Linked DNA regions of Homo sapiens: regions 1, 2, 3, 4 and 6 are each reported to be linked to region 5. Evidence: microRNA targets listed by miRTarBase, many of them from high-throughput screens and not tested one by one. Region 5 holds a microRNA gene; each other region holds the end of a gene's coding sequence.
The links. The annotated mature microRNA hsa-miR-5703 reads AGGAGAAGUCGGGAAGGU and lies in region 5 at 2,157-2,174, shown strand. An mRNA with a match to its seed (bases 2 to 7 or 8) in the 3' UTR can be bound and repressed. Matches are read on the target gene's strand: a 7mer-m8 pairs with bases 2 to 8, a 7mer-A1 pairs with bases 2 to 7 and ends in A, and an 8mer does both.

Region 1 (5,222 bases), not on the chromosome of region 5:
GGGCTGCACGCCAACCCGGTGACGCCCTGCCTGTGCATGTGTCCCTTGTTCTCCTGCCAGTGGGAAGGCCGCCTGGAGGTGGTGGTGCCCCACCTGCGGCAGATCCATAGGGTTGACATCCTCCAGGGAGCCGAGATCGTCTTCCTGGCCACGGACATGCACCTCCCCGCGCCGGCTGATTGGATCATCATGCACTCCTGCCTTGGCCACCACTTTCTGTTGGTGCTGAGGAAACAGGAGAGGCATGAAGGGCACCCCCAGTTCTTTGCCACCATGATGCTGATTGGGACCCCCACCCAGGCCGACTGCTTCACCTATCGCCTGGAGCTCAACAGAAACCATCGGCGCCTCAAGTGGGAGGCCACGCCCCGGTCTGTTCTTGAGTGCGTGGACTCGGTGATTACGGACGGGGACTGCCTCGTCCTCAACACCTCGCTGGCACAGCTCTTCTCTGACAACGGCAGCCTTGCCATTGGGATTGCCATCACCGCGACAGAGGTCCTCCCCTCAGAAGCTGAAATGTGAGGCCAGGAGCCACGGATGCTCCCCACACAGCCTCCCTAGGAAACGCCTGGGACCTCCCAATACCAGGACTCCAGACTCCTTTTTATTCTTCTCCTTTCTTTTTTTTTTTTTTAATTTTTAATTATTATTATTTTTTTGTCTCAGGTACTTTGTGAGATTTAGTTTTTGTCTGCCATGGGCATTATATTATGTAAACATCCTGTAATTTAAGATCTTGGTGTGATGTTTGTCCTGCCTTGTTGGTGTTGTTTTATAGAATGTTTGTAAGATTTATTCAGAATAGTTTTTTCCTGTCACCTCCAAGTCCTTTCTCCGCTAGTTTTGAAAGGATCAAAACACCATCAAGCAGACTGTTGGGGTTGAAAGGAGGCTTCGTGTGAGAATCATTTCTTGTTTCTCTTTTCAGTCTATTTCAGAGCAAGCTAAATCTGAACGTGTGCAGTCGGCAGGTTGGGGAAGGGGCCCAGCTCAGAGATGGATCACATTTCAGACCATCCAGACATGACTCTGACAGCTTCCCAGGAACCTCAAGGTCAAAGCTGAGCTAGCCGGGCATGAGGAGATCGTGTCTCCACCGCAGGGCTGGGGACTGGGCTAGAGGTGTCATTGTGTGCTGAGTGCTCAGGTTGATGCTGGGGCTCAGGAGAGTAGTCAGAGGCCCACCTTCCTGTGACGGGCTCTTGTCACCTTGTTCCCAGGCTGTGCCGTCTTCTCCTGCTCTGGAATCAAAGTCCTCAGATTTTTGATGCTTTCTTAAAAACCCCTTTGCCTTCTGTTGAGCAAGTAGTAGAAAAGAATAGGCAAGATGGGGGGTGGGGATGAAAAGCAACAGGAAAAAGAGAACATAAAATTAATCTCCCATCTCTGAGAGGGCACTCCCTCCTCAGAGAGTTTTATTATCAAGTTATAAAATCCATCAGTTCCTCCCTAGGGTGCAGTTCTTTCATATCATGCAAAAAGCAGAACCAGGACTCATCATCAAATGCAAAGAACTCAGAGGGTGGCACCCAGGATCTCTGACCTGGCGGGCTGGTCATCACTTACAAACCTGGGAGGCTCTCTTCCCTTTCCTCACTTTCTAAAATGCTCCTACCGTCCCATTCAGCACGCAGACGTGACCACGGCTCAAGTATGTATTCAGCACCTGTTGCAGTATGAATGACACAGTGACGGAAATCCATATTTCCTCTGCGCAGGCTGCTTTCTCTTATTTGGTTGTCAGAACAATTCATCAACATCTTCTTGTAGAAGTCTCTCGTGTATTTGAAGAAAGTCAGCATGTTTAGTCAACTTTGTCTTTTCTGTTCTAAGTTGGACACCTATAAGCCTTCCCAGTAGGACCTCTTCTAGCTCCTTTTTATCGCATTTGTCCCCCCCCTCTGGCTGCTCTCCAGACACTGCAGAAGTCAGGCACCCCATCCCCAGCACATTCCCATGACAGCCAAATGGGCCTTTGGCCAACCAGACATTACTCTCCGTGCCCTGTTCCTGCACCTCACCCCCTCGGCTTGGTCCTGGCAGGCATCCAAGTGACTACTTAGTCTCAGGCAGGTTGCCCTGGCTGGCCATCTGCAATTTTTTCTCCACCAAAAATAACTGATCCTGAAACACAACACCCTTCCCCCAACAACTGGGTTAATTCTCCAGCCACTTTTGGTGCCAACTTACACCCCCACGCACCAGAAGGGAGGTGCCAGTCGATACAAGATTTAATAACAGAGGCTGCTCTGGTCACACAGTAATCGCTGGGCCCCTGGGGCTGAGACTGCATTCCGTCAGAGCCCTGAGAGGGGCAAAAAACATTGCCACAGATGGAGGCACATGTCAGATGCTGCAGTCGCAAAAAAGGATTGGGGCCTGCGCATTCTTTGAGCTCTCAGATGCCCTGCCAGGGCACCAGCCACCCTCCTCCAATCACACAGATGCCCAAGAACACCTGAGGCTGGTCCGTCTGTGCGTGGAAAGACTGGCTGTCTTCCTCCTCACTGCATCCCCAATCCCCTTCCCAGAACCTAAGACCCCCTTGGCTGTAAGTCTTATGCCTTTAGAAGCCACAGGTCCTCTCCTGGTTTTTGAGACTCAACCACTTTGAAAGCATTTGTGTAGCATCACAGGTGCTCCAGATCAACAAACAAAAACCTCACTAAGAATATAACTAACATTCACAGGGCCTTAGGGCTCCTGCAGACATCACCTTTGCCTTCTGGTTGTGCCAAGTTACCTGAGCCACACTGGGAATGACTTCAGGTTATTTTCACTGCACACAAGACTGTATTATGAATAAGTGATCCCAGATGGGAGCTTATATTTTTGTTCCTAGAAAGCTTTAGGACAAAGCATGGGAAATGTATTATTATCTTCCATCTATGGTGCTCCCCAAAAGGCCTCTCCATATCCATATGTGAAGAACTGGAGAAGAAGGAGCAAACTAACAACCAAGAATTGGGAATAGGAAATGGTACCAGCAGTTTGTATTTGAGCTTCACAGTTCCTGAAGGGCTCTTTGATTTGAGTCTCAGGTTAATCCTCATTAGTATCCTCAATATACTAACAGAATAGAGGTTCTAAGACATGAAGTGATCTTTTCAAGGTCACACATCAGGTGGTTAGACCACAACCAAAACCCAGATCAACTGACTGCAAACTTGGTGTTCTTGAAGTAAGACTGATCCGAAATATTCAGCAGTCTTGCCAGCTTACCAGTGGACTGAGGACCTGAGAATCAACTGAGTCTTTGTCCTGGGATAGTTGAGGGAGCAGGGAGAGAAAGACTGGAGTAGATTTGCTTTTAGAAGCATCTCTGCTTTAAGAACTAGGCCAGGGATGGTGGCTCACGTCCATAATCCCAGGACTTTGGGAGGCCAAGGAAGGAGGATTGCTTGAGCTCAGGAGTTTGAGACCAGCCTGGGCAATATAGCGAGACTTCATTTCTACAAAAAAAAAAATCAGCTGGGCATGGTGACACAAGCCTATAGTCTTAACTACTCGGAGGCCAAGACAGGGGGATGGCTTGAGCCCAGGAGGTTGAGGTCACAGTGAGCTGTGATTGCACCACTTGTAACTCCAGCCTGGGCAACAGAGTGAGACCCTATCTCTTTAGAAAAAAAAAAAAAGCACTAGTCCACCTGGAAGCAGGGGGCCCAGGAAGTGGGTGGGCTGCAGATGGAGGCTTCAGTGCGCCAGGCCCTTTCTGAATCCCTTTGCCCACACCCAGGTTTCTCACCTTAGAGTCCCAGGAGTCCCTGCACAGAACGCTGGGATCTGGTTGCCTCATTCACACCAAGGTGCAAGAGTTAATGACTCACTCTCTAAGGAGTAATTGCCTTTTAAAAGAAGGCCTAGAGAGACAGCGCACTTAACAGTGAAAAATGAGTTACCAGTATCTGAACTTCAGGCATCTGCCAGAGGTTTTTTTCAGGAGGTGTGGAGAGAGGAGCATTCCTCCCCTTGAGGCTGAGCCTACATACATGGTTGACGCCGAAATGGAGGTCAGGCCACACGAAGATTGTCTTTAACAATTGGTATCTGCATGAATCTGTACCTGGTAAACCCCATCACTAGCTGTGGCTACTCTGGACATTTTAGGAATAGATCAGCATAGTAACCATAATAGTACTCATGGCTACCACTTATTGAGGCTTTTCTATATGATCCAGTAGGCTGCGTACTTTGAATATAGTAGATCATGTAATCCCCATAACAACCTTAGCAAGCAGGTGCTCTTTATTGTATTCATGTTACGGGTGGGAAACGTAAGCTAAGAGAATTTAGCCAACTTGCTTAAGATCACCCAGCTAGCAAATGGCAGAGCTGGGCCTGGGACCGGGTACGTATGGCTTCTGACCAACAGCAACCATGTCATTTCTATGAACATATGGACCCAAGGCTCAGAAGGACCGAGTCATAAAGTGTGAATGGCATAGAGGCCTTTTAGTGCTTTCATACTCAATATGGCCTTTTAGCTCCCCTTTTTCTCCCTCTTTTTTCAACCCAAGACCTAGTGGAGTACTAGAGCTGCTTGTATTCTGGTTGTTAATCTTTCAGGAATTTTGCAAGCTGATTGTTAATTAAGTACAGTCAGTATTAAAAATGATATACATTTACAATTAAATAAATTATATTTAAAGCAAAGGTCAAAAGTACTTAAAACTCATCACTTCCTAATTATTTCACTACTCTTTTTATTCTCTATGCTCCTGGGGTTATTTACATCTATCACATCTGTATGATGAACATACTATATAATAATGTGCTGCACCGCATCTTCCAGCTCCACATTTAGTGACGTCATGGTGATTGCTTGAAATTAGCCATGGTGGAAGTATTCATACCATGGAAATTAGCAAATGCTACTAGACAGGGATTTTTCTCCCTAGAAAGCCAGTTGTTAAGCACTTAACAGTATAATCATCCCTCAGTATCCTTGGGGGATTGGTTCCAGGAATCTCGTGGACACTAAAATCTGAAGATGCTCAAGTCCCTTATATAAAACGGCATAGTATTTGTATATAACCTACGCAATCCTCCCATATACTTTAAATAATCTCTAGAGTACTTATAATACCTAATACAATGTAAATGCTATGTCAATAGTTTTTATACTGCATTATTTCTTATTGTTGTATTATTTCTTTTTTTTTTCCTGAATATTCTTGATTCACAGTTGGTGGAATCCACAGGTGTGGAACATGTGGATA
Region 2 (5,222 bases), not on the chromosome of region 5:
AGTCTTCTTCCCACTCTCTCCTCCCCACTCTCCTACTCTGCACCCAGGAGGGGCATTTGAAAATGCTTATCTGCCCATGTCACACCTCTGCTTTCAGTCCAGTGCCTTCCAATGGCCAATGTGGTCTGGCTCTGACAACTTCTCCAAACACATTCTCCATCTCCCTGACCACACCAGTTGCTCACTATCCCTCAAATATGGCACACTTTTTCATCAATATGCTAGTCTCTCTGTCCCTCATGCCCTTTTTCTACTACTGTACTTACTAAACTCTTATAAATCCTTTGACTATGAAGGCTTTCCTGATGATGACTTGCCTTCCAATGGCAGAGTCCATTGCACCCACCCTTTCTCATGTAAAGAAGTCATTATAGGCCTGGCACAGTGGCTCATGCCTATAATTCCAGCACTTTGGGAGGCCGAGGTGGGAGAATTGCCTGAGCTCAGGAGTTCAAGACAAGGCTGGGCAACATGAAGAAAAATTACACTACAAAAAATTACAAAAATTAGCTGGGTGTGGTGGTGCACGCCTGTAGTCTCAGCTACTTGGGGGACTAAGGTGGGAGGATTGCTTGAACCTGGGAGGTTGAGGCTGCAATGAGCTGTGTTAGTACCACTGCACTGCACTCTAGCTAGGGTGACAGAGTGAGACTCTATCTCTTAAAAAACAGTCATTATAATAACTATTTACTAAGAACTTTTGTTTTCAAGTACACGATGGCTTTATATACATCATCTAATTTAATCTTCCCAACAGTCTTGAAGTAGTATATTTATCCCTTTCACAGATGAGAAAAGTGAGGCTTAGAGAGGTTAAGTTAATGCCAGCTAACCTGAGCTTATTAGTTAGCAATGTCTGTTGAGTTTGCCTCCTAAATTTCTCTTAAAGGTTGGCCCTGCCTCACTGTAAATTGCACAGCCAATATTTAAACCCAGATTGGCTTGACTCCAGAGTGTCTGATTTTATCCTGCTGTATTTAGTTAGCTAAATTCTGGGAGTTCCTTAAGGGGAGGAGCTGGATCCTGTTCATGTTAGTACCCCAAACCTGGAAATCAGTACTCTGGTATTGGTTGGAAGTTAGACTTAGTTTTTGACTTAAGATGGAGAAGGGAGGCACTGCACTTAGTAGCCCTAGCAGGTAGTGTGCATACACAGTGCTCATCATTTGGAATTACTTTGTCTGCTCAAGTTTAGATCTCAGTATCTCAATACCATCACTTACTACCTACAGGATTTGGGGCAGGTTATTCAGTCTGCCTAAACCGGAGTTTCTTGAATTGTAAAATGATCGCCACAATAGCACATGACTGTTTTGCTCATGGTTAAATGAGATAAGTATGTAGAGCCATCGGTATGAGGATCCCTTAAATGGTAGTTACCAGCATTTGTCTGTAGTGCACACTTTATCACGAAGCCTGCTGAGAGAAGATAATTCTTGACCATCCAGAAGGATGAGGTCATTTAGGGGTGATTTCCTATGCACCCCTAACACACACATCTGTGTGTTCACAACTTCTCTATATGGTGGTGAAGACTACATGAGAAGTCTCATCCTTGCCAGCATATTGTGACATGAGCTTCCCTGGCAAGTTCCGTGGCAGTGCATGGATCAATCTGGTCATGCAGAGGCCAGGGCACCATACCCAATAGCTTCATTTACAGGTCAAGAATGTTTCTTTTTTTTAACGACACACTTCTCTTTGGGGGTCTTGTTATTGCATTAAATTCCACCATGGTGACCACTTCTCTTTAAGTTTTTGACACTAGTTACAATTCACATAGCTGACAGAGCTGAAAATCATTAATTCTTTCTTTTAATCAGAATTCTCTAGGTCTTTCCCAACCAGATTTTCCTGGATGTCTGCCCAAGACTCACAGTATTATGCATATTGTCTCCATCAGGAGAAAAAATAAAAAATAAAATAAAAACACTATACATTGCATTGGATGCATGTTAACTCCCTTATCATTCAAGCTGGGAAACAACCCCTTGAGGTGGGACCAGCATTGACTCCACTTTGTTGATGAGAAACCTGATGTCAAGTTACTCCCTTAAGGGCAATAGCTGGTGAATAGCAGTGTTGTCAGATTCAAACTTAATCAGGCTCAGATCACCACACCAGCACATTGAGTGCTGTAATTTTCTGCAACTGTTGAGCTAAATTGTTCCTCGGGTTGGGTCAAGACAATGGAAAGCAACAGCAACCTGATAGCTCTCTGAAAACTTGGGACCCAGGCCCAGCAAACTGATAGCTCTCTGAAGGCCCATGTATACCCAGGAAGTGGTATACATGAGAGGCATTTAGAAGCTCCACCTGTATACTTAGAGAAACATAAACCCAATAATAGTAAACTTCCTGAAAGAGTGCCTTAGAGCTTAGATTGTGAGAGGTTGAGAAGCTTCCCAGGCACCAAGGTTGGAAGAATCTCTTTCTGCTTTGTTTTCTTTTGTGTTACCCATTTTCCCCATATGGATTGAAGTCCTGGGGAAAAAAATGCGCTCAATATGTAGGTTATCAGGAAGGGGATTGTCAATCTCATCAACATTTGCCAAATTGAGAAGTAGGCATGGTTTTTTTCTTTTTTACTCACCACTACACAAATGAGGATAGGCATATTTTGAATGGCTTATGTTTTATTGATATTCAGTATCTTTTCCTCTTCTGAAACCCCACAGTGCTACACTCTCTTCTCTTAACAGGTGTCATCTTTGCATTATGATATACCTGACCTACATCCCATCTGCTCAAGCTAGGTAGCTTATTTGAGCTAATATGAGGGTGTTAAGAATTTATAACATCTCTTCATACTCATTACCCTCCCAGGGAAGGGTACACTGGAAGCAGTGCAATTACCATTTAAAAGGATATTTCAATGATACCTCAATAAAGCTGTTTTAAAAATAGATAAATAAAGGGAGATTCCAGTGTTGGTATGTCACCCCCTAAGCTATCATCACCTCCTTCATGGAAAATGACAATGGCACCCCTCTCTTTGGGGCCTTCTCCAATCCATCCTTCACCCTGTAGTGAGAATGATTTTCTTAAAGAGTAAGTTGACTATTTAGTCATATAAATAGTCATGGATGCTTCAAGGCAGCATCAAGCTTCTTGCCCAAAGCTTCCAATGCCTTGCCAAGCTCCCAGCCTCACCTTTTAACACTTCCTATTTTGATCCCTACTCTTAAGGAAAGTTTTCAGTCCTTGAAAGAGGTGTACTGTCTCTTGTCTCTGGGCTTTTGTTCATATCTCTTCTTCCTGGAGCAAATTCCATCTTTTTTTTTTTTTTTAAGTTGTCACCTAGGCTGGAGTCCAGTGGCTCCATGTCAGTTCACTGCAAACTCTGCCTCCCAGGTTCAAGCAATTCTCATGCCTCAGCCTCCCAAGTAGCTGGGATTGATTACAGGCACGTGCCACCATGCCCTGCTATTTTTTATTTTTTGTATTGTTAGTAGAGACGGGGTTTCACCACATTAGCCAGGCTGGTCTCAAACTCCTGGCCTCAAGTGATCCACCTGCCCTGGCCTCCCAAAGTGCTAGGATTACAGGCATGAGCCACTGTGCCTGGCAAGCAAATCCCATCTTTTTCACCTCTCTGTCTGGCTTATTTCTACTCATCCTTTGGGTTTAGGTATCACTTTTTCAAGGAAGCATTTCAGGAGCCCTCCAGTGTGTCTCATGCTCTAACAGTGAGTGCAAAGAACCTCCATTCTTCCTCTAGCACAGCTTGAAATGACCAGACTCCTTCTCTATAATTTCCACTGGGCAATAAGTTCCCTGAGGGAAGGAAGCTTCTCTGTCTTTAGTTGCATATGCTCTGTGACTGGCACAGGGTAGATACTCAATAAGTGAATAAACAGAGGTCTCTCAAGCACATTCCCTTGGTAAGAAATACCACCCAAGCAGAAAGAGAGACAATAGGAATTTTTAATGCATGGACAGGCCTGCAGGGACTCTGGGCAGACCCACAGGTAGCAGGAAGAGGCAGGGTCCCACAAACTCAATAATGTCCAGCAAAAAAGAGAGAGAAGTCCTTAAAGACCCATGCTTCCTCACTGCAACCATCCTCAGAGCTTCCTTCCTGGTGCTGAAGAGGTCAAAACTGTCTCCTCTAGGGGTCAGGTCAAAACTGTCCCTCCATAGGTCTCCTCCAGGGGTCCATGGCAGGAAGAAAGCAGAGTGTGGCAGGAAGAAGGAAGAAGAGCAAAGGCCGCTTGGTCTCCACCTGAAAACTTCTGCCTCGGGATTGACAGCCATCCATAAGAAAAGGTTTAAAAAGGAGAGACTTTTGATAGAGTCAAATAATATCTTTGAAAAAATAAAAGATAGAGAAAAATGAATAATTCCATTGGTTACAAAGGTCTCTGTCCACTATCCACAGGAGAAACCGTTTGCTTTGGCCTTGCTGGCAAGCTTCATCTGCTAGGCCCATCCTCAGCTGTCCCCCAGCCCACCCAGGCCCCAGGATCCAGGAGAATACTGCTCCCCCTCCCATGGAGAGTCTCTGTGCTCACGGAGGGCAATACCCTCCCTCACCGGCCCTTGGACTCCCCGTACGTGTTTCGGGCCATTGACACCATCTTCTCCTCACACGTGATTTTGGTGTCCTTGAGGATGCTATACCACACCATGCCTGCAGGCCGGACCTCCTCGCTGCGGCAGAAAAGATAGGGCACTGTTTCCACGCGGCTCTGGATGTAGGCACTCCGCAGGAGGCTGGAGCAGTGGCTACTCACCCTCTCCAGTCGCCGTAGAATCAGGTGGGCCTTCCTGAAAGGTAGGATGAGACAGCCATGATTAAAGAAGTCCAGATCAAGAGTTAGACCTTTGAGGTAGTAAATGTCAACAAACAAATGGTAACTTCTCCCAACCATTTCCTATCTACTCCAGATTGGAGTGTGGTACTTCAAACACTGATTCAAAAATTGCCCTAGAACCTATCTTCTTCAATTGTGCAATGTGTTAAAAAATGAAAAAGAGGTAGAGCCTTTAACCTAGTATTTTCACTTCTAGGATATGGGAGCCCTAGGAGTTCAAAGGTGACCAGCCTTGGACTCTGATCAAATAGGTATTATTATAATGATTAAAAAGCAACAAGAACAACCAAAAGTTATTGACACCATATGCTAGACACTGGGTATGCATTTTACATATATTTTACATTTTTTATTTAGCCTTTATAACTATCCTGAATGTATTGTCTACCCCCTTTTAATGGGTGA
Region 3 (5,222 bases), not on the chromosome of region 5:
ACATAAAATGCTGATAACTGAAATGAAAGAGGTCCTAAATAGATACCTCATGTTCATGGATTGGAAGACACAAAATTGCATTCAAAACCCCAGTAGGATTTTTTGTAGATACAGAGTAGCTAATTCTAAAATTCATATGGAAGGCAAAGAAACTAAATTAGCCAAAACAATTTTGAAAAAGATTTCAAAAAAATTTTGAAGGAATCATGCTGCCCAGTTTTAAGACTTACTATAAAGCTGTGATAATCAAGGCAATCTGGTATTTATGAAAGGATAAACACATAGATCGATGGAATAAAGTCCAAAACCAGACTCACATAAATAGCAATTGATTTCTGACAAAGGTGAAAAGACAACTCAATGGGGAATGGAGAGTTTTTCAACAGACGATTTTAAAACAACTGAACATCCATATGCAAAAAAATAAACCTACCTAAATTTCACAGCTTATACAAAAATTAACCTAAAATGGATCACGGATCTAAATGTAGAACTAAATTTATAAAATTTTTAGAAGAAAAAAATCCATAGGCCGGGCACGGTGGCTCATGCCTGTAATCCCAGCACTTCAGAGGCTGAGGCGGGCAGATCCGTTGAGGTCAGTTCAAGACCAGCCTAGCCTATATGGTGAAATCCCAACTCTACTAAAAATAAAAAATAAAAAAAAAATGGGCTGGGAGTGGTGGTGCACACCTGTAGTCCCAGCTACTTGGGAGACTGAAGCACAAGAATCACTTGAACCCAGCAGGCAGAGGTTGCAGTGAGTGGAGATTGTGCCACTGCACCCCAGCCTGGGTGACAGAGTGAGAATGTGAGTCAAAAAAAGAAAAAAGAAAAATTCCTCATGACCTGGGGTTAAGGTTCCTAGACATGACACCAAAAACATGATCCACCAATGGCATGATGGATAAGACTTCATCAAAATTAAGTCTGTGCTTCAAAAGACACTATCAACAAAGTAAAGAGAGAATAGGAGAAATTACAAATCATATACCTGGTAAGAGACTTGTACCCAGAATATATAAAGACTCTTACTACCCAATAAGACAACTAAAAAAATGGGTAAATAATTTGAATAAACACTGCTTTAAGGAAGATACACAAATAGCCAATAAGCACAAGAAAGAATGCTCAACATAGTATCAGAGAATAGCAAACCAAAACTAGATAGAGATCCCATTTCATATCCACTAGAGTGACTAAAATCAAAATGTCAGGTAAACAAGTATTGGCAAGGATGCAGAGAAAATGGAACCTGCATACACTGCTGGTGGGAAAGTAAAAAGATGTAGCTGCTTTGGGAAACAATGACAGCTCCTCAAATGATTAACATAGTTATCATATAACCTAAAAATTCTACTCCTAGGTAAGAAATGAAAACACATATGCACATAAAGACTTGTACACGTTTATAGCAGCTTTAGTCAGGACAGCCAAAGGGTGGAAATACCCAAAATGTCCAACTTACAAATGTATAAACAAAGTGCTACAGCCATACAATGAAGTATTTTCAGACATACTAATGAATGTGCTGATACATGCTCGAATATAGATGAACCTCTTAAGACATGTAAAGTGAAGGAAGCCAGTAACCAAAGACCACGTATTATGATTCCATGTACATGAAATGTCCAGAATAAGGAAATCTATGAGATGAAAAGAGGTAGTATGGATGGCGGGGGATGACAGGAGAAGGATAAAAGCTAAACTATACAAGGTTTCTATCTGAGGTGATGAAAACATTCTAAAATTGATTATTGGAATGGTTGCATTTATCTGTGTATATACTAAAAGCTACTGAATTACACACCTTAAATGGGTGAAATGTATGTTGTTACAATAAAGCGTTTTTCTTAATTATATATGATCCCATTTATAACATGCTTGAAGACAAAAATATGGAGATGGGGATTAGATCAGTGGTTTCCAAGGTTTAGGGGCTGGGAGTAGGGTGTGTAGAGTACAAAGAGAGCACGAGAGTTTTTACGGTGATTGAACTCTTCAATACTCTGACTGTGGAGGTGTTTACACATATCTATACTTAAAATTCACCAAACCATACACCAAAAAAGTTAATTTTACTTTACTCAAAAAATTTTGTTAAATGTCAAAGAGAATAAAATTAAAAGAAAAATAGCCTCTTCCCCCGACAATTCATTCCTAAAATGAGCAAGATAGGAATCACAGGGTGAATGGACTGCCATGGCCTGGAGTGAGGTATTAGGGTCCAGGCAGGATGAGGAGGACATTCCTGCTCAGCATAGGATGCGAAGCCTAAGCAGGGTGAGGAAGACATTCATGTGGGGAGATGACCTACAATAGAGAATCAGGCCAGGCGCAGTGGCTCACACCTGTAATCCCAGCAATTTGGGAGGCCCAGGCGGGCGGATCACCTGATGTCCGGAGTTCGAGACCAGCCTGACCAACATGGAGAAACCCCGTCTCTACCAAAAATTAAAAATTAGCCAGGTGTGGCAGCGCATGCCTGTAATCCCAGCTACTTGGGAGGCTGAGGCAGGAGAATCGCTTGAACCCAGGAGGCGGAGGTTGCAGTAAGCCGAGATCGCGCGACTGCACTCCAGTCTGGGCAACAAGAGTGAAACTCCACCTTAAAAAAAAAAAACCCCACAAATAATCAAATAGGAATCAGGTTTCTCACTGGTACTGAAAACGGTTATAAATGTGGAGAAGGAAAAAATGAAAATGAAGCCCATGGGATCAGAATTTATATGTGAATTCATGGTTTTCAATATACATAGATGCAGAAATATAGATGTAAAGACATGCATTATATATACACACCAACGGCAATTGCACACTAGCACAGATCTTGGCTTTTAAATATTACTCACTAAAGAGAACCCAGGCTCTACGGAAAAATGGCTGATTCTTGGGTTAGGTCGAGGACAGCATGAGAAGCCTGGTATATCTTATGCCAGAGAGTAACAAATTCATTGAATAATGATGGGAATGTGTCAGAAGGACACAGAGGCCACCCAGAATGGACTTCTACCAGCCAAATGTACAATAATTTTGAGCACCAATGTAATGATAATAGGTTTTTTAACCTGCTGAATAAAATAGAAAATAATGAGTTTATAGAGATACGATAAATTTAAAGTCTGATCAGAAACAAGGTAGTATTTTGCAACTATCTTCTCAAGAAATAATTATAAAAATAACTACAGTGGAGAAGTCTGGCAGACACTACCTTAATCAGTCATCTAAGAAACACCATCAGAAATGAGACAAACTGAAATTATTAAACAATGACAGGATGCACTTCTATCACATTCCTGCCAAAGATGAATAACCTCAATCTAATCATGAAGTATCAGACAGAACTCAAAATAAGGGGTGTTCTACAAAACTAGCCCATAATTGTCAAAAGTACTAAGTTGTAAAAGGAAACAAATGAGAATTTGTTCCAGAATGAAGTAAACTAAAGACAGCTGACATCTAAATGAAAGGCATGATTCTGACTGGATCCTCTTGCTATATGGACATTATTGGGACAATCAGTTCAATGTGAATGAAGTGAAGATCTGAGGATTAGAGGGTAGTAATGTGTCAACGTAAATTTCCTGATTCTAATGGTTGCATTGTAGTCATGTAAGATAATTTGAAGCAGATAGTAATCAGTAATGAGGAATCATGTCTTCAACTAAATCACAAATGGTTCAGAAAGAAAAAAATTATCTGTAACTTTTCTATGCATGAGATTTAAAATTTTTTCAAGAGTTAAAAAGGGCAAAAAATAAAAAGGACATAAATAGGATATTGAATAAAATGTCTATAGACAATTCCTACCTATATGCCTAAATCACTTACAATCAAAATGATGCCACTGATATACAATTAGTGACCTTACTTTGCTTTCTGCCACAAAGGACTCACCTAATTACCATGATCACACTTCTCTTTTGTGTTAATCCACTTCTATTGTTAGGGTTTTAACTATTTTTAAACTTCTTGACATAAAGTAATCCCTCAAGTAATAATATTCTAATTAAGAAATTTACATTAACTCTTAATTTACTTAAAATACATTTATGGACTTTTTCCTTTATTAAAATTGTTTTCAGCACTATAATTTTGTGTGAATTGTTATACTTAGACAAAGGGGTACACAATTCCTATTTAGAAAATTTTATTGAATATCATACTTATCAAAAGAAAAAGTTAATTTTCCCCAAAGGCACCCTTCATTTCACATGATCTATACTCTAATGTTCTTTTGTATTAAAAATATGGTTAAATATGGAATTAGTAAAATGCAGCATATAAAACTTCATGCTGAGCAAAAACAAGTCCAAAACAACTTTACCATATATCCATAGAATAGTTCCCACAGTACATTTCCTATGTAAATTATGTTTGAATGCAATTTTTAGAACCATTTTAAGATACATTTTGCAATCTGTTAACTGTAGGCATCCGCATTTTTCTTCCATTACATAATCTGTTTATCTGATTAAGTTGGCAATATCTGCTAGGATCCACAGAATGCAGGAAAAAAAGCAGTTATTTCTCAAGGTTTGAGAAATCTGGTCCACCTTTAGTGTAGTTTCCTGAGATTTCTGCTCCACTGAAGTCAAAACCAGGATTCTAAAAGATACAAACATATATATAATGAAATAAAACTTATAAGGAAAAATACAAGTACAAACTGGCAATTGATAAAAAAGGATATATAAATGACCAATAAATACATGAAAATATAACAGACTTCACTGTTACCACCAAAGTAATATTTAAAATTATGAGGCATTTTTCAACTCTCCCAGTTACAAATATTTAGACATCATATGTACACTACAATGTTGGCAAGTGTATGGGGAAACATATACTTCAATAAAAGTCTGTAGTTATATTTAATAGCTAGCATTTTTATTTTATTTATTATTATTTTTTTTGAGACGGAGTTTCGCTCTTGTTGCCCAGGCGGGAGTGCAATGGTGCGACCTCAGCTCACCATAATCTCTGCCTCCCAGGTTCAAGCGATTCTCCTGCCTAAGCCTCCCGAGTAGCTGCGATTACAGGCATGTACCACCATGCCTGGCTAATTTTGTATTTTTAGTAGACACGGGGTTTCTCCATGTTGGTCAGGCTTGTCTTGAACTCCCAACCTCCGGTGATCCGCCTGCCTCAGCCTCCCAAAGTGCTGGGATTACAGGCGTGAGCCATGGCGCCCAGCCTATAGCTAGCATTTTTTGAGAGCT
Region 4 (5,222 bases), not on the chromosome of region 5:
AGACCAAGTGGGTAGGGAGTCACCAGGCCAGTGTTGAGAACAGGCCAGAGCAGGCAGGACCAGACCTACAGTTCTGATCTTTGAGGCTGAGGTTGAGGGTCCATTCCCAGGCCTAAGGAACCTTTCCCTACGGTTCTCTTCTCATAAGAGCTCTGGTAGTAGCTTCTGACCAGGAGGTATCAGATGTCCCTTGATCTGTTTCCTGACGTCCAGTCAGCCTGGGGTCTTTTCCTAGTTTCTGGCTCTTTCTGAATGCATCTACCTTGTCTCTCTCCACTGCCCAGTGGCCTCTAGTCACCCCAACCTGATCCTCTGAAATGCAAAGCCCAGCAATCTCCCCAACCAGCAATTTCCCCAACTGGGTACCCCTCAAGCCTTATCTAAGCCTCCTGTTTATCTGCCTCACTGCTGGCTCCTCCCTGGCCCTACCTGTGGGGCTGCTCTTGAGGGCACTGTCCTGGCTCACCCTCCCATCCTGTTCACAGGTCTCTCTCTTCCCCCACAGGCCTCCACTGCCAGCCTATGGTTGTTCGCCACCAAGCCAGGAGTGCTGCACCGCCCAGTGGTCCCCCTCGGGCTCCAGGCCCCCACTGAGACCCTCTCGGAGGCAGAAGCACTTCACCCCTCAGAGTCCTACAAGTCCAACCAGTGGACCTGGAATTGGCCAAGGGCTCAGGAGAGGGCTGTGTTGCTCTCTCAACCATGTCCGCCCCAGCTCTTGAGGCTGGATCTTTCTACTTGTGCCACTATGGGCACTAGGTCTGTAGGTCCCTGGTGCTTCCAGTACTGCACTTTGCCCCCAAGGTCTTTGACTTCATTTCCTGAAGGGTCACCAAGGGTCAGCTCAGGGCTAGGAAAAACCATTTCCAGCCTTAGCCTAAACAGGGCACATAGATCTCTCCCACTAGAGCCCAGAGGGATGAGAGGAGAGAGCAACTGTTCTTTCTTTTTTTTTCCCTTCCTTTTTGCAGGCCCATGGTCAGCTCTGGTCTAGATGTATCTAGGCTTAGGGAGCCCTGGGACCCTGCCAGTCTCAGTTCATCTCTTACCAGGAGCAAGGCCCTCTGAAGCATGGGCCGTGCCAGCTGTGCCCTAGTGATAAGGGTAAGAGGAGAGATGTCAGGCTCACTGCCCTTATTTCTCTGCCCATTTCATTCTAGGCTCACACTGTCCTTGTCAAGGTGGGCAGAAGAGCAGAGGTCTTCTCTGCACCAACCACTCTCTGCAGATGGCTGGAGAAAGGGTGTGCCAACTCTTCACCTTCTTTCCTCAGCTACGGTTTTTTTTTTTTTTTTTTTTTTTTTGGCAGGGGACAAGGAGCATGGTGGTCTTGGCTATTTGCTTACCTTCCCGTTTCTCCTCTGCCCCTGGAAGGGAATGTGGGGGCCCACTTTTTTGTACATGTACCACCTCCCTTTCCTCTTACTGTACATAAACCTCAGACTCTCCCCCTCTCAACAAAGGCTTGATGCACCAGGCCTGACTTTGTCTCCTCTTTCTGAGCTTAGGGGGCTAGGGTGGCCATTTAGTCTGACCTGGGCTATGGGGATAGAAAAGAAATCTTTGGGGCACTGCATCTGTTTTGGAGGAGATGAGATCAGAACTCTGGGGAAAGGAGAACCGGCTAGGTGGGCTCTAGCCACACAAAGGGAAGCAGGCCTGCCATGAGACACTAGTGCCCTCTGCTGGGCATGTGTCCAGTCCCCAGCCTGCCCCAGTAGCACATGGAAAAGAGTCACTGGCCATGTTATAAATATTGTTATTTAAAAAACAAAAAACAAAACACACGTACATTAGGTCCTGGGTGGAGGAAGAAGTGGTGGAGCCTCAGGGCCAGGGCAGGCAGGAGCAGGCACTGATGCTAGAGGGTGATGACCCTGCCCTCTGCCACCCAGGCTGCGTCCAACAGCCTGTGACTCTTCCCTGGAGACCCCTTCTCTCACACTTTTATCTACTGGCATCACCCACCCCACATGGCATATACCACCCATCTCTGGTCTGGGGCTGAGGGCAAGGACTGCACTAGTCCAGGGAGTAGGGGACCCTTGAACACCAAGAGCAACCTTGAGAGGTGCCAACAATGGTGTGCTGGGGGTGGGGTTACTTTAGAAAAAGTGGACACAGACCAGACTAAGGAAGAAGTCTGAGGCAGACGGTGAGGGTGGCCCAGGAGCCATGGCCTCACACAGACCCGAGGCAGAGAACAGCTCATTGGGTCACTGGTGATCATCCAGCTGCTGTAGGAGTGTCCGCCGCCGCCTCTCCAGCTCACCCTCACTCAGCTCACTTTCTGACGTGTCCCAGCCTGTCTGTTGGAGCAAAGGCACAGTTCACCCTTAGCCTGCACTAAGGGCCGTGGAAGCTTGACCAGCGTGCTGACTGGCCTAGGGCCCCTGCCCCTCACCTTCTCCTTCTTGATTCCAAAGCCTGGGGAACGGTTAGGGAGCTCTGCCTGTTGGAGCTCCCTGTCCTTGTCCTGTTCTTGTTCTTTCTCATCGCTCTCCTTGCCAGCTTTCTCCTCAGGGTCTGTCTCACTCTCAGGACTATTCTGTAAGAGTCCAGAGCCCACCTCCTCAGTTCCTGTGGATAGCCTGGGAGGCAGGTAGAACAGAACTCACAAAATAGCAGGGGCTTAGGTAGAAGTTCCTTCACTCACCGACTTGTGTCTTCTCTTCTTAGTTTTCTTTTTTGGTTTCTTGGCTTTCCGAAGGCCATGATCTAGAGATAGAAAAATCCCTACTAAGTCCCAACAGGAGAAAGACAGGCTCTTTTTCTTTGTTCTAGCCCCTCTGTTCATTCTTCACAGGCAGGAACCTCATGCTCTGAGGAAGTCTAAGTCCAGTTTTCCTTCTCCAGCTTCTTGCTTGGGCAGGTAGAGGAAGTTCTTTCTACTTCCACAGGTGCAGCCCTCCCAATCCAGTCTACCCTCAAAGGAGCTGGGGCTTGTGGAGGGCATCCTCTCAGTCTGGGACAACAGTTCTCCAGCTTCTACGCTCACAGCAACTGCTTACCTGCTCCAAGAAGATGGGAGGAAGGGGAGCCCCGTCCTCCAAGGGCAGCACCCCCACTTTCAACTGAATCAAGTGAGGAAGAGGGCTCAGAGCCTGACTCTGAGGGGTTCCGCCTCCTCCGCTTGGGGGGCCGGAGAGATGGTGGGGGCAGCTCCTCTTCTTCTGACTCAGAGCCCTGGGCAGATCAGCAGATACATGTCAGTGCAGAGGTTCTCTGCCCTCCAGAAGCCCTCGTCTGGGAATTCGAGAGAGGAGGAGGACCCAGGGCCAAAGGAATCCTCAAACTTCCCTCCAAGGGAGATATTGTAAGGGGAAAACAAAGTGTTTATTTCCCCAAAACAACCCAGCTTCACCCCATGTCCCTTCTACACGCTTACTCACTGAGGGTGAGTGGGAACGCTTGTGATGGTGCTTCTTGCCTTTCCTGCCATGCTTTCGGCCTTTGGTGTGGAGGTGCTGGCATTCAGTCTGCTAGAGGCAGAGGAAGAAGGGTGAGGACAGCACCAGACTTAGCCCCAGGAAGGATCCTACTTCCTAAAATCTGGCTTTGCCTCCCTTTCTCAGACTAGAGCCTTCTGCCTATCCCAGGGATCCTCAGGCCTCCCCTTCCTTAGCTGGCCAGGAGTGCCCTAAGGGTAAGAGGGAGGCCACTGAGGTCTCTGTTGAACTGGTCTAATGAGTTCAAGGGCCTGAGGCAGATCCAGAGGACAAGCCTGCCTCACCTCCAGCACCTGTAGGAACTCCCGGAAGAGCCGGATCCGCTCCGACTCCAGGGTGATCTGCTCAAAGGCTGAGTCACACACAAAACGCTCACGGACCTTGAACGAGGAGAGCACTGCTGATCAGACTAGGCCCCACTCAGCCTGGCCTGGACACCGCCATGAGCACAGGGCAGGGCTGGGGCAGAGAAAGGAAGGGAACTGGAGCTGGCCCAGGGCTGTGACGTGACTGGGGTGGGCCCTCAGTGGTGAAGCACCGCTGCCCTCAGGCTTGAGGGGTGCTTGGGGCCAGGCTACGCTCCTGACCTCTTCCCAGGCAGTGCCTAGCTCCAGAGCAGGCACAGCCTGCCTCAGCATGCTTCGAAAGGCAGCTTCCCTGCGCCGCATCCTGCGTGCCTCCTCCTTCTCCCGCTCCCTCTCCCGTGCCTCTGCTTTCTCCAGCAGCTGAGGAAAGAAGGGACACGGAACAGGGTCACCCAGGAGGGTGGATGCCAGGTCCCACTCAGGCATACCTTAGGAGGTGGAAAGTTAGGGTCTGGGCTTCTACCACCATCCCCTGAATTGGGAATATAGTCAGTGGGACAGTGAGTGAGAAGGAATGGAGCAAGACACAGATGAATTAGAGAACTTCCCACGCCCCGCCCAGCCCCTCACACTATTGAAGGTCAGCTTGATGTTGCCTGCGTCCAGTGCGGCAGCCCTCTTGTCAAAGCTTATGACGTGGGCGAAGTCCTCAAAGGCCGTGTTCACCTCCACGCAGAAGCCCCGGTCCTGTGGGTACAGCAGTGCATGAAGCAGGGGCACCACGTGCCTGAGGCCAAAGCTGGCAGGCAGAGTGGTCACATTACAGATGGTCAAGAAGGCCCTTGCCTCTGGAAGAGATCCACAGGACTGTGGTCTGCATTAGAAACCAAGTTATCCAAGTCCTCATCACTTGACAATTAAGCCCCCATGCCTACCCTTGGTTTGGATGTCACACAGAGCTGAAGGGGTTGGGAGATGTCTCCCAACTGCTGATTAATGCTGAGTTTCTCAAAATTAACTTTTGTTCCTTTGGCTTAAAGCTCTGGCCCCAGCTGGGCCCTCCTGCTGCTCAGCAGTGCTTCCATGCATTCTCAATCAACATTTGCTGGCCCCTACCCTTTGGGTCTATTTATTGAGTGCTTACTATGTACCAGGTACCATGATGAGTGTTTCACACATTATCTCATTTAATCCTCTTGGTTCTACATTTAAGAATAGGTCCTAGTATCCTAATTTTACACAGAAGGAGAAACCAAGGTTCAGAGAAACTAGAGCACTTGCCCAAGGTCTCACAGCTGATATACGGCTGGGCAAGAACCCTACCCTGGGGGGGCTCTCTATCCCCAAAGTGTCTGCTTTCAAGCACCACACCCACCCAGATGACTTAGTCCATGGGAGAAACGGAGGCCACCAGGTGTGCAGCTCCCCACCAATACTAAAAACATGTCCACAGGCCAGGCTCTATGCT
Region 5 (5,222 bases):
AACTCTACAGAATAAAGTGCCCAATTACTAAAACAAATGAATTATAATTAAAAAAAAAGAGATGGTGGAGAGACCCAAAGAAACCTTATGAGACATATTACCCAGTTGCAAGGAGTGGGTTCAAACAAACTGTAAAAATCTCATTAAAATATTGATAATTGCCAACTTAAACACTAGTGCGATATTTGATGATCTTTAGGAGTTATTAACTTTTTTTTTTTTGAGGCGGAGTCTTGCTCTATTGCCCAGGTTGGAGTGCAGTGGCACAATCTTGGCTCACTGCCACCTCTGCCTCCCAGGTTCAAGTGATTCTCCTGCCTCAGCTTCCCAAGTAGCTGGGACTACAAGTGCATGCCACCATGCCTGGCTAATTTTCATATTTTTAGTAGAGACCCGGTTTCGCCATGTAGGCCAGGCTGGTCCTGAACTCCTGACCTCAGGTAATCCACCTGCCTTGGCCTCCCACAGTGCTGGGATTACAGGTGTGCGCCATCGTGCCCAGCCTATTGTTAACTTTTTAGATATGCTAACGGTATCATGGCTAAGTTTGAAAGAGATAAAGTTTTTATTTTTTAGGGATACAAATGGAACTATGTACCATTTAGATGAATGGTACGAAACCTAGAATTTGCTTTAAAATAATAGGAGAGGGGATGGAGGGTTGAGGTATTTATAAAGCAAGATTAGCCATGGGCTTAATCATTGCTGAAAGTGGTCCATGGGCTCATGGTAGTTTGATATTTTCCATAATAGAAAAGTTTAAAAACATTCATTGGCCAATCTATCTGTCCATTTCTTTTAATATTAAAAACATTAATTATTATTAGTAGTATTATATTAATATGAAGTCTCACTTTGTTGATTCACCCAATCCCTTTCATGAGAGATGTGGAGGTTGGTCTTGGCTGTTAGGAAACGTAGATTCTAATCCATTCAACAGCCCAGTGATTTGAGAACTTCAGCTCTCTGGGTCTCCCTGTACTCCTTTGGAAAACGAGAGACGAAGTTGATTGTTGCAGTGGGGATTTGGGTCCTGCAGTCTGGCTGTCTGGGTTGGAATTGAGCTTCGCCATAGGTACCCTTGGGTAAATTTACTTAATCCCTCAGGGTTTCATCTTCCTGTTTTGTAAAATGTAAATAACAATAACGCTCACCTCGAAGGGTTGTTGTGAAGATTACATGAACGATTTCATGTATTCATTCCGTCAACATTGAACACCTAGTCTCCAGCTCTGCGAGGGGAATGGGGTGGAGTGGCACAGAAAATACGGGGGCCAGGCTGTTTAGCGCCTAAAGGGAGAGTCCAGATCACCCATGGTAAACACGAAATAAGATGCAGTATTTCAAATAGCTAGAACTGAGACGAAAATACAACGCAGCAATTTGATGGAGAGCAACTTCGAGAAAGGTGAGCTGCAACATTAACTCGGCTGATCTGGGACAGTCTGGCGGGGGAGGTGACATCTGAGCCCCACCTGACTTAGAGGATGTCAGCTATGGATGATCCGGGTTTCCACACGCAGCAGTTCTCAAGCCAGGTGACTGCACCGCCCTAAAGTTCCCTCCACTTTTGGCAATGTCTGGGGATTTTTGGTTGCCAGCAATGGGAATTGGGGGGTTTGTTCTTGTATCTAGTGGGTATAGGCTAGGAACGCCGCCCAGTATCCTACAGTGCACAGGACACCCCAAGCCCCCCCAAATTAGCTGGCCCAAAGATAAAGAGAGAAGAGCAAGGGCAAAGGTCCTGCAGGAGTCAGAAAGGAGCTTGCTGTGTTCAGAAAACTCAAAATCCAGTGTGGCTGAGTGAGGACGACGAAGAATGAGGTAGACTGGGCTAGACTATGGAGCACTTTTTACGGCACGGTGAGGAATTTGGAATTATACTCAAAGCAGTGGAAAGCCCTTGAAGAGTTTTAAACAGAAGGGGAAGGTAACCCATGTGAAACGCTTTGCATATATAAGCGCTCAATAAATACTGTCTATTATTAATATTATTATCACCATTGTGTCTACCCTACTTGGCTCCAGACCCGGCCCATGCCTCAGCGAGGCCGCAGTGACTCCTCCTGGCCAGCAGAGGGCGCCAGCGGACACTTGGCTACCGGCCGCCCAGGGCGGGCCTCCTCTTGCCGTCCCCTTCCTCGTCTTTTCCCCTCAGGAGAAGTCGGGAAGGTGGCGGCGGCGGCGGCGGTTGTCCCGGCTGTGCCGGTTGGTGTGGCCCGTCAGCCCGCGTACCACAGCGCCCGGGCCGCGTCGAGCCCAGTACAGCCAAGCCGCTGCGGCCGGGTCCGGCGCGGGCGGCGCGCGCAGACGGAGGGCGGCGGCCGCGGCCAGGGCGGCCCGTGGGACCGCGGGCCCCCGGCGCAGCGCTGCCCGGCTCCCGGCCCTGCCGGCCTCCTCCCTTGGCGCCGCGGCCATGGCGGCCAGCGCGAAGCGGAAGCAGGAGGAGAAGCACCTGAAGATGCTGCGGGACATGACCGGCCTCCCGCACAACCGAAAGTGCTTCGACTGCGACCAGCGCGGCCCCACCTACGTTAACATGACGGTCGGCTCCTTCGTGTGTACCTCCTGCTCCGGCAGCCTGTGAGTGCGGGGCGGCCGGGCGGGTGTCGGGCCCTTCCCGGGAGGTGGGGGAGCGGGCGGCGGGACCGGGACCCTTCCGGGGCTGGGAAAGAGCCGGGTGCCGTGGGAGGCGGTCGGGGGCGGCCGTTGGGCGCCGGCTGGCGGGCGCGGCGTGGGAGGCTGCGGGCTGGATGCGCAGGGCCCGGGCAGCCGGGCTGGGGATGCGTTTTCGGTTTTGCCGGGCGAGGGTTTACGTTCTGGGCAGCCTTCGTGGGTGGGACGTGGGCGGGGTTGGGGTCAGGGAGGGGGCGACCGGGGCGAGCGTCCCTGGTCTCCGTCGAGCCTGCGGCCGCCGCCCTCGCTCTCCAGCTACCCGGGGCGCCGGGCTGTGGGGGGTGGGGGAAGACGCTAGGAGGCCGGGGGGGAGGTCCATGCGGGTCCTTTGTGTGCCCCGCCTCTCAGCGGCCCGGGAGCCGCGGTGCGGAGCGAGGCACCTGCTGGGCGCTCCTGCTGGGGGTCGGGGAGAAGCTGGGGTGGGAGGGAGGGACGCCTGCCTCGCCCGTGCCTTTTTTCTGGGTCGAGAGTACCTACGTAACTGGGAGGAAGCAGGCACTTAGGAATAGTAGCAGGATGAAAGCATCTTGATGGCAGATGTGAATCCCCTGGGAAAAGTTCGAAAGGATTAATTGCGGGAGGGGGAGGCAGAGGAGCAGATTTGAAGCTGTGGGATTTTAGTTTTATGGTCCGAAGAGAGTGTTGAGGAGTTGGGGGAAAGTTTTAATGGCAATAAGGTACCCACTAGGAGCTGTGTGATTCTAAATATGATGGAGTTATCTGTGAGATTTATCTGTATCTCGCTATCAATACCCGAGTGCCCTGGCTGTACACAGAAATGAGGAGAGCTAGCAAGTCACCATGATTTCAGAAAGACACTACCGTCCTGAGTTACTGGGATGATTTGTGTTTGTTGTTCTTTGCTTCATTAAGCTTTATTTTGATAAAGATTTTTATTGCCGTGCAATTTCATTCGGAAAATTTGCAGGTGGTTTTGGAATTGATAAAATGCTTTTATATTATTATCTTGTATTTAAAGTTACTAACAACGTGGCAGTTACTAAGTATTTTTAAAACCTTTGCTTGTAAGATTAATACAAAGCACATAATACTTTATGTGGGAAAATTGATTTCTTAAAACTTAGAAAATGCAGAACATGTCTAGTATGTACTATTTGCTTTTTAAAGTTGGGCAAAGAGGCATTATTAGTATTACATGAGTGTTATTTCTTCAGCAGACATTTTTTTTGGTGCCTATTAGGTTGTGTAAGGCCCTGGGGTGTGCCAGTAAATATAGCAAAGTCTTGTTCTCTTGGTTCTTACAGTCCAGTGGGGATGCAAAAGTAAGAAAAATGTCTTGGGCAAGTACTATGCTGAACATGAAAATTGTTTGATAGGAGAGTGCTCATGGTTACTTTTAGGCTGTGTGGCCAGGGAGACACTCTGAGAAGTTGCCAGTTAATAATATTCTCGAATTACTACAGAATCACAGAGCTAGGTGATATCAAGGAGGTAGCCTGGTTCATGCATTTCATTTACAGAAAAAGGAGTTAAGCTAGAAAGTTGTTACTTACGTTGGACAATATTGGTTCCAAAATGAAGCCAATAGAACAATTGTAATTGTATTTGATTTTTATTACATGGTTAAGATGTATGTCCTGCTTTTACTAAACACAGGTCCTTTAATCCATGTAAAGTATTTGATTTGGAAAAAATACATATATTTACACTTCCGGATTTCTGACATTTCTGTGTAGTCCCTGTAAGTACAGCAGCAAATGTGTAATATCAAGGACATATTTTCAAATTTCTTCCTAGATACCACATTTCAGAAACATTGTGCATAAAAGGATATCTCAGTATAATGACAATTATTTATCTTAATGGAACTTAATCTGTGGCAGATAGGACTTCATTTCTCTATTGAGTCATTCCACAAATATTTATTGCCTACTTGTCCTGTGTCATAAGTTACCTGGATCTTAACTGTTCTATGGAGCGTGCCTTGTAAGTATGTAAACGTAGAGTTACAATATATTGTAGTATTTCCTTTCTGTGAATGAGATAGCCAGGAAATATGTAAATGATACAGCTTCTCTGGGAGTTGATGCCTGAGCAAAGACCTTTAACGAGAAATTCTGCTTCATATGTTTGAAAGATCAAGTACTTATGAGCTAGGTACACATGGCTTTGAATCCTGACTCCAAGTATTAGTTATACGGTATTGAGAATGTCACTCAATCTATTTGAGCTTGATTTTTCTCTTATATGAAACAGTGAGGATAAGATTTCCCTTGTAAGTTTTGGATGTAGATTTGTTTTCAGTATTAAAAATAATGTATGTTAAACATCTCACGTAATGCCTGGTATATAGCAAGTGCCCTATAGATGAGAAGCATCAAGGAAGAGGACATGCCATGAGTAAGGGAACAGTACTGTATGTGAAAGATATTAAATAAGAAATATCCTAATAAAAATCTGTCACTTTGGATTTTATGGTTGTAACTCAAAACCGGAATCTAATTGGTTTAAAAATATGAAGGGTTTATTGATTGATTTTAAAGTAAAACTATACAGTGGCTTAATAATATTGCCTAGATTTTCCT
Region 6 (5,222 bases), not on the chromosome of region 5:
ACATCTTTCATAGCCATTAAAATATTACTTAATTTTTTTTATAAAAACTTCTTCAAGCTAACTAAGCTATCTTAGTGAACATCATTCGGTGAAATTGTAAAGGTCTGCACTAAGTCACGAAAGTTTCCTTGCTTACTAAATAATTCTACACGAGAAGAGTGAATATATTTAGGAATATAATATGTTCATTTCTCAGCCTTGGTAGGGTGCATGATAAGGTCTTCGGAGCGATGATAATGGATTATGGAAACACTGCCTTCTAAATTTTAGGATTAAATCTTTTAAAAATTGGAAACCTTTGTGCTGGTTTCTCAGTGTCAATGAGAAGTTCAGGAGTATAGTGGGCATGGTGACTCACTTATGAAGAAGGCTTCTATTTGCTAACAGTGAGATGTTTTATAGACAATGTTTAGCAATAATGTGTTTTTTCATATAAATATACTCATTTGTATATTGATTGCATTTCTGCTATAAGCTTAATAAGCTTTTTAATATTATGTTTTATATCTTTTAATAGATGGTTTGTGAAGAAGGTGACAAGCTAACCTACTCAAAATATGGGCGATTTTGTCATGAGGTCAAAATTAACTATTCTCCATATGTGAATTATTTCACTAGAGTATACTGGAACAGATCCTACTTTGTATATAAAATCAACACTGTGATATCCTTCCAGTCTTGAAAAATAACAGAGCCTTCATTTCAAAGACTACCTGAAGTAAAATGCAGTTTTCTTCTACCTACTCGGTGTCTTTTGCAGATCAGAGTATGGACATTTGAAATATTGCTGCTTCTTTCCCCCTTCTGCTGTTAACTGGATCCAGAGTTCTGTGGGAAATAGAAGATCAAGCATTACTGTCCTTTGATTAAATGTGATATCTACCACTCTGCAATATTCCAGACAGGTGTCTTCCTTACCGTTACATGGTCTTTAACACTTTTACTGATTGCAATATTTTCCCCATAAAATCTTCATTCTATTATAATATTGATCTTGAATTTGAATATGTGCAAGGTCAGATACATTTCTCAAACATAACATTTAATAAATAATGTGATATAATTATTTAATAGAAAGAATAATTCCGACCTTCAAGCAAGTTTCTGAAGGTATTTTATGATGTATAACAACTGAAGTTTTACAATAAAAACTAATTTAAATGTTAGCTGAAGATATGTGGCATTTAAATTAAAATGGAAATTATATAAAGGAAAGTGATTTTTAAGGATATACATAAAGATATATTTAGAATTTTCATGATACTGTTCTCCTCATCTACTGCTTATGTTAAGTGAGAACTTTCTTAGTAATACATAATGCATGATGTTACTGCATTTTCTAAATGACTAGTAAGTGATTAGTTTTTTCACTTATGCCTATTAATTTGATACCAATTTAATCATGATAAAACAATAACCGTTAACATATATTTTGTTAAATGGACATTTAAAAGAATGTTGTTCAGGTTTTTTTTTTAAATACTGATATGGGGCATACAATCTATTCACATGTTTTCTACTGAAGTACTAAGTAAAAAAATTAAATCATTATCAGAATAAAAATATGTGTTCTAAAATTAGCAACAATTTCTGGGGATACATGCAGATGTTGTTAAACGTACCTCTGCATACAGATATATTATAAAACACAAGCAATGTTATTTATGAAACTGTGATGCAGTCTTCAACATCAAGAAAAAATGACAACTATAATAAAATTTACAACACAGTTTCACAGTCTAAATGCTATGTTCCTTTAAGTATTTTCATATTTTTAATCATTTATTAAGAGAAAATTGTGAAAAGTTAATTTGGCCTTATAGAGAGATTCAGGATAGATGTAGCCTATAGATGTGTCATTTTAATAAGTTGGGATACATGTTTAGTTTTTCCTTATATTCCTGTTCAGTGAACAGATTTTCATAATTCTCACTTGTTAAAGTGCTGCAAAAATTGCATTTTCAGTACTCTAAATTACTACATTAGAAGAGAGCATTTCTCCATTGTCTTTATTTTCTGTTATATATGTGTTGTAAAAGTACACTACATTAGAAGGGAGCTTTTCCGTTGTCTTTATTTTCTGTTATACATGTGTTGTTAAAGTACATGCATTCTTAGACTAACTCTCAGATGCTTTGCTCTTTTGGAGCTGAAGAATTGTTTGATGGTGATGTCATATATCTGATAGATTAGTTTCAGTGGTTCTCATTTCACTTTTATACGTAATTTCTTAACTATATTAAGATAGTTGCAGGCAGTGTACCTCAGGTTGACTCTGTACATCTGAATAGTGAGTCACTAGTATTTTGCTTCAAGCCTTCTGAAAATATAACCATAGTTACCTAAGCACACAGTGAATAGTCACATGGTAGTACTTGTGATTAGAGCATGTAAAACAATGTAATTGAAAAGTCAGCTTCCATATTTTGTAGGGGAAATAGAACACCCTACTTTTTATCTAGTGTGAAATATTTAATCGAATTTTTGTTGATTTATATTATGTTACCTGTGCTGAATTAGGTTTGGTACTTGTGTTTTGTTTGACATATTAGTAAGTTGCTTTTGCTTCTTTCTGTCAACTTATTTTTTAAATAAAATTGATCTGGAAAAATTGTTAATGGGATGTTTTAAATAATGAATTTTTCATCCAGCATCAGTTGAAAAGGAAAAGAAAGCTTCATTATGGAAATGACAATATTGAATATGACAGATAAGTTTATTTGCTTCTGTTTTAACTGCAGTTAATAGTACTAGACAACTTTAAGTGGAAAGCATTTAGTTTATTTCTTCACTTATTTGTAGAGTGAACAAATGATTCACAATTCTACAAGTAATTCCACTTAGGTAACTTACAGTTGTTAGGTTTGACAATAAAGATCTACTATGAGAGGAGAAGAATTTATGGGTTTTGGGTGGAAGGAATTTCTCAAAGAAATAAAAAATGTTCTTTGCCCTTGATACTGCAAACCCACTGATACAAGTGCCTTGAATTTATTATTATTATTATTTTTTATTTTTTTGAGATGGAGTTTCACTCTTGTCTCCCAGGCTGGAGTGCAATGGCGCGATCTTGGCTCACTGCAACCTCCGCTCGCTGCAACCTCCGCCTCCCAGGTTCAAGTGATTCTCCTGCCTCAGCCTCCGGAGTAGCTGGGATTACAGGCACCTGCCACCAAGCACGGCTAATTTTTGTATTTTTAGTAGAAACGGGGTTTCGCCATGTTGGCCAGGCTGGTCTCGAACTCCTGACCTCAGATGATCCACTCACCCCAGCCTCCCAAAGTGCTGGGATTACAGACGTGAGCCACTGCGCCCGGCGCAAGTCTTTGTTAAAAGTAGAGATGGAGGCCAGGCGCAGTGGCTCACTCCTGTAATCCCAGCACTTTGGGAGGCTGAGGCAGGCAGATCACGAGGTCAGGAGATCGAGACCATCTTGGCTAACACGGTGAAACCCCGTCTCTACTGAAAATACAAAAAATTAGCCGGGCAGGGTGGCGGGCGCCTGTAGTCCCAGCTACTCCGAGGCTGAAGCAGGAGAATGGCGTCAAGCGGCGAGGCGGAGCTTGCGGTGAGCCGAGATCATGCCGCTGCACTCCAGCCTGGGCAACAGAGCAAGACTCCATCTCAAAAAGAAAAAAAAAGTAGAGATGGGATCTCTAGCCTCCTAAGTTAATTTAGCCTCCCAAATGCCAGACAAAGAATCTAACATAAAATTTACCTTGAATAAGATATATGATATTGATTCTGAGCTGCTTTGTATTTTTTCTGACTTTGGCATCTGTATCTTGGTGCTTTCTGTTAGACTGGTAGAGTTTAAGAACCTAAGGAGTATGCATTGTACTTCAGTGCTAACTTTTTTCTTCATTTACTTTCTGTGTATATAGGCAGCATATTTTTTTTGTAGAACATTAACCCAGATTGCTAATAGCTTCATGTTACGGCATTCTTCCACACAGTCCAGATTGATTTAAGGAAAAGCAGAAATGGAAGTCAAAGTGTGTTATAAATTGAGACTGAAAAACATGCTTTAAAAAATAGATTTAATTTCTTACACTGTGAATAGCCATTGTATTGTTTTGTTTCTGATAAATCAGTTGTTTTGGGCCCCTATTTTTGAACTGTTAAAAAATTTTGATGCTTTTCGTGGATAAAAGTAGTGCCTCTCTTTATACAACTGATGGGGTTTTAAAAAGTGTAAATTGCCTTTTTTGTTAAACTTATTTTAAATGCTTTAGTATTTAAAGGGTGTATGTTATTAATTAATCTGCATATTTGTAACGCAAATAACTACTTCCTGATTTACATCTCAATATATTCTTCTTTCATTTGCCCAATTTAAAAAATACGTAGTCTCTATTGTTGCTGTTTACTAATAGTTTTAGATCCCAATGTGTATTAGAATTATAGCTACAAAAAGTTGCAAGTAAAATTTAGCAATTTCCTATTCAAACAGGATCTCATTAGTATGTTTTTTAATGTGTAGAATTAACACTTTAAAATAAACAGGTGTGAAAATTATAAAGGAATATATATGACAATTATTTTCTGTACATTAATGTCTAAACATTATACTTACTTTTTCATAATAAAGGAAATTTTGGAACCAAATTTGCTGAGTTTAGCATAAAGGCGTCTTTGAATTATTTCTGAGTTTCCTAAAATGTGCAACATTTTAATCTTGGCATATCTAATCCTATGTGCTGTTCTGTAAGAGGTACACTGGACTTCTAACCACTATATGTATTTAGTAGAATAATGGTATCACAAAGGAACAAGAATTCCAAACTTATAGTTTGAAATGTCTCATAAACAACCCTTTCGTATTTTAAGTTAGTAGCTTTGTATAGCTATTTAACACAGATGAGTATAGTTAGCTTTATATATATTATCCTCTGAGTCTTATCTGTGACAATGTGTATTTAGATTAAATATGTTCCTCCTGTAACTAAAGTTGCATCTTTGCAAAGGATCAAAGTTCATTTCAGCAGACACAAATTCTTTGAAAGATTTGGGCTATAAACTAACACTTCAAATTTTGTAATAATCAATATACTTTTATCAAGAAGGAAATTATTTCATGCTTAATTACCCTCCTTATTTTGTTTCCATAATAAAACTATTTTCAGAATTTTAAGTTATTTTATTTATACATGAGCTTTTTTGGTGACAGCTTCGCTGAGATATAATTCATATACCGTACAATTCACCCGTTTAAAATGTAT

Region 1: miRTarBase lists SIAH3 as a target of hsa-miR-5703. Seed matches in the 3' UTR shown: 7mer-m8 at 613-619, 7mer-m8 at 1,234-1,240, 7mer-A1 at 2,105-2,111 and 7mer-A1 at 2,165-2,171.
Region 2: miRTarBase lists ASTN2 as a target of hsa-miR-5703. The part of its 3' UTR that is shown has no 7-base or 8-base seed match.
Region 3: the mRNA of NUDCD2 is a reported target of hsa-miR-5703. Seed matches in the 3' UTR shown: 8mer at 3,189-3,196, 8mer at 2,684-2,691, 7mer-A1 at 2,429-2,435 and 7mer-m8 at 1,689-1,695.
Region 4: miRTarBase lists FMNL3 as a target of hsa-miR-5703. Seed matches in the 3' UTR shown: 7mer-m8 at 2,405-2,411, 8mer at 2,848-2,855, 7mer-A1 at 2,978-2,984, 7mer-m8 at 4,133-4,139 and 7mer-A1 at 4,164-4,170.
Region 6: miRTarBase lists DPY19L4 as a target of hsa-miR-5703. Seed matches in the 3' UTR shown: 7mer-A1 at 1,997-2,003.

Annotation. Positions count from the first base shown.
Region 1 is chr13:45,778,686-45,783,907 of GRCh38, reverse strand. It overlaps SIAH3 (siah E3 ubiquitin protein ligase family member 3), which reads left to right. Exons shown (of 2, transcript NM_198849.3): 2 at 1-5,222. The coding sequence ends at 525. Among named protein-coding and RNA genes, the nearest start is that of SIAH3, 70 kb to the left of the region's middle. RefSeq lists enhancers at 1-258, 259-759.
Region 2 is chr9:116,421,319-116,426,540 of GRCh38, forward strand. ASTN2 (astrotactin 2) reads right to left here. Exons shown (of 23, transcript NM_001365068.1): 23 at 1,794-4,770. The coding sequence ends at 4,533. Among named protein-coding and RNA genes, the nearest start is that of PAPPA-AS1, 23 kb to the left of the region's middle. RefSeq lists a silencer at 1,413-1,669.
Region 3 is chr5:163,449,443-163,454,664 of GRCh38, forward strand. It overlaps NUDCD2 (NudC domain containing 2), which reads right to left. Exons shown (of 4, transcript NM_145266.6): 4 at 1-4,608. The coding sequence ends at 4,525. It also overlaps a transcript of CCNG1 not described here. Among named protein-coding and RNA genes, the nearest start is that of NUDCD2, 8.0 kb to the right of the region's middle.
Region 4 is chr12:49,641,187-49,646,408 of GRCh38, reverse strand. It overlaps FMNL3 (formin like 3), which reads left to right. Exons shown (of 26, transcript NM_175736.5): 26 at 506-5,222. The coding sequence ends at 594. It overlaps PRPF40B (pre-mRNA processing factor 40B), which reads right to left. Exons shown (of 26, transcript NM_001031698.3): 19 at 4,385-4,501; 20 at 4,037-4,174; 21 at 3,734-3,829; 22 at 3,393-3,479; 23 at 3,012-3,186; 24 at 2,657-2,718; 25 at 2,405-2,548; 26 at 1,744-2,309. The coding sequence ends at 2,217. Among named protein-coding and RNA genes, the nearest start is that of PRPF40B, 20 kb to the right of the region's middle.
Region 5 is chr2:227,470,006-227,475,227 of GRCh38, forward strand. It overlaps MIR5703 (microRNA 5703), which reads left to right and starts at 2,127; the gene lies at 2,127-2,182. AGFG1 (ArfGAP with FG repeats 1) reads left to right here and starts at 2,151. Exons shown (of 13, transcript NM_004504.5): 1 at 2,151-2,583. The coding sequence starts at 2,417. It overlaps LOC124907994 (a long non-coding RNA gene), which reads right to left and starts at 2,094. Exons shown (of 2, transcript XR_007088114.1): 1 at 1,155-2,094; 2 at 783-984. RefSeq lists an enhancer at 1,064-2,027 and a silencer at 2,140-2,859.
Region 6 is chr8:94,789,229-94,794,450 of GRCh38, forward strand. DPY19L4 (dpy-19 like 4) reads left to right here. Exons shown (of 19, transcript NM_181787.3): 19 at 518-4,608. The coding sequence ends at 682. Among named protein-coding and RNA genes, the nearest start is that of INTS8, 31 kb to the right of the region's middle.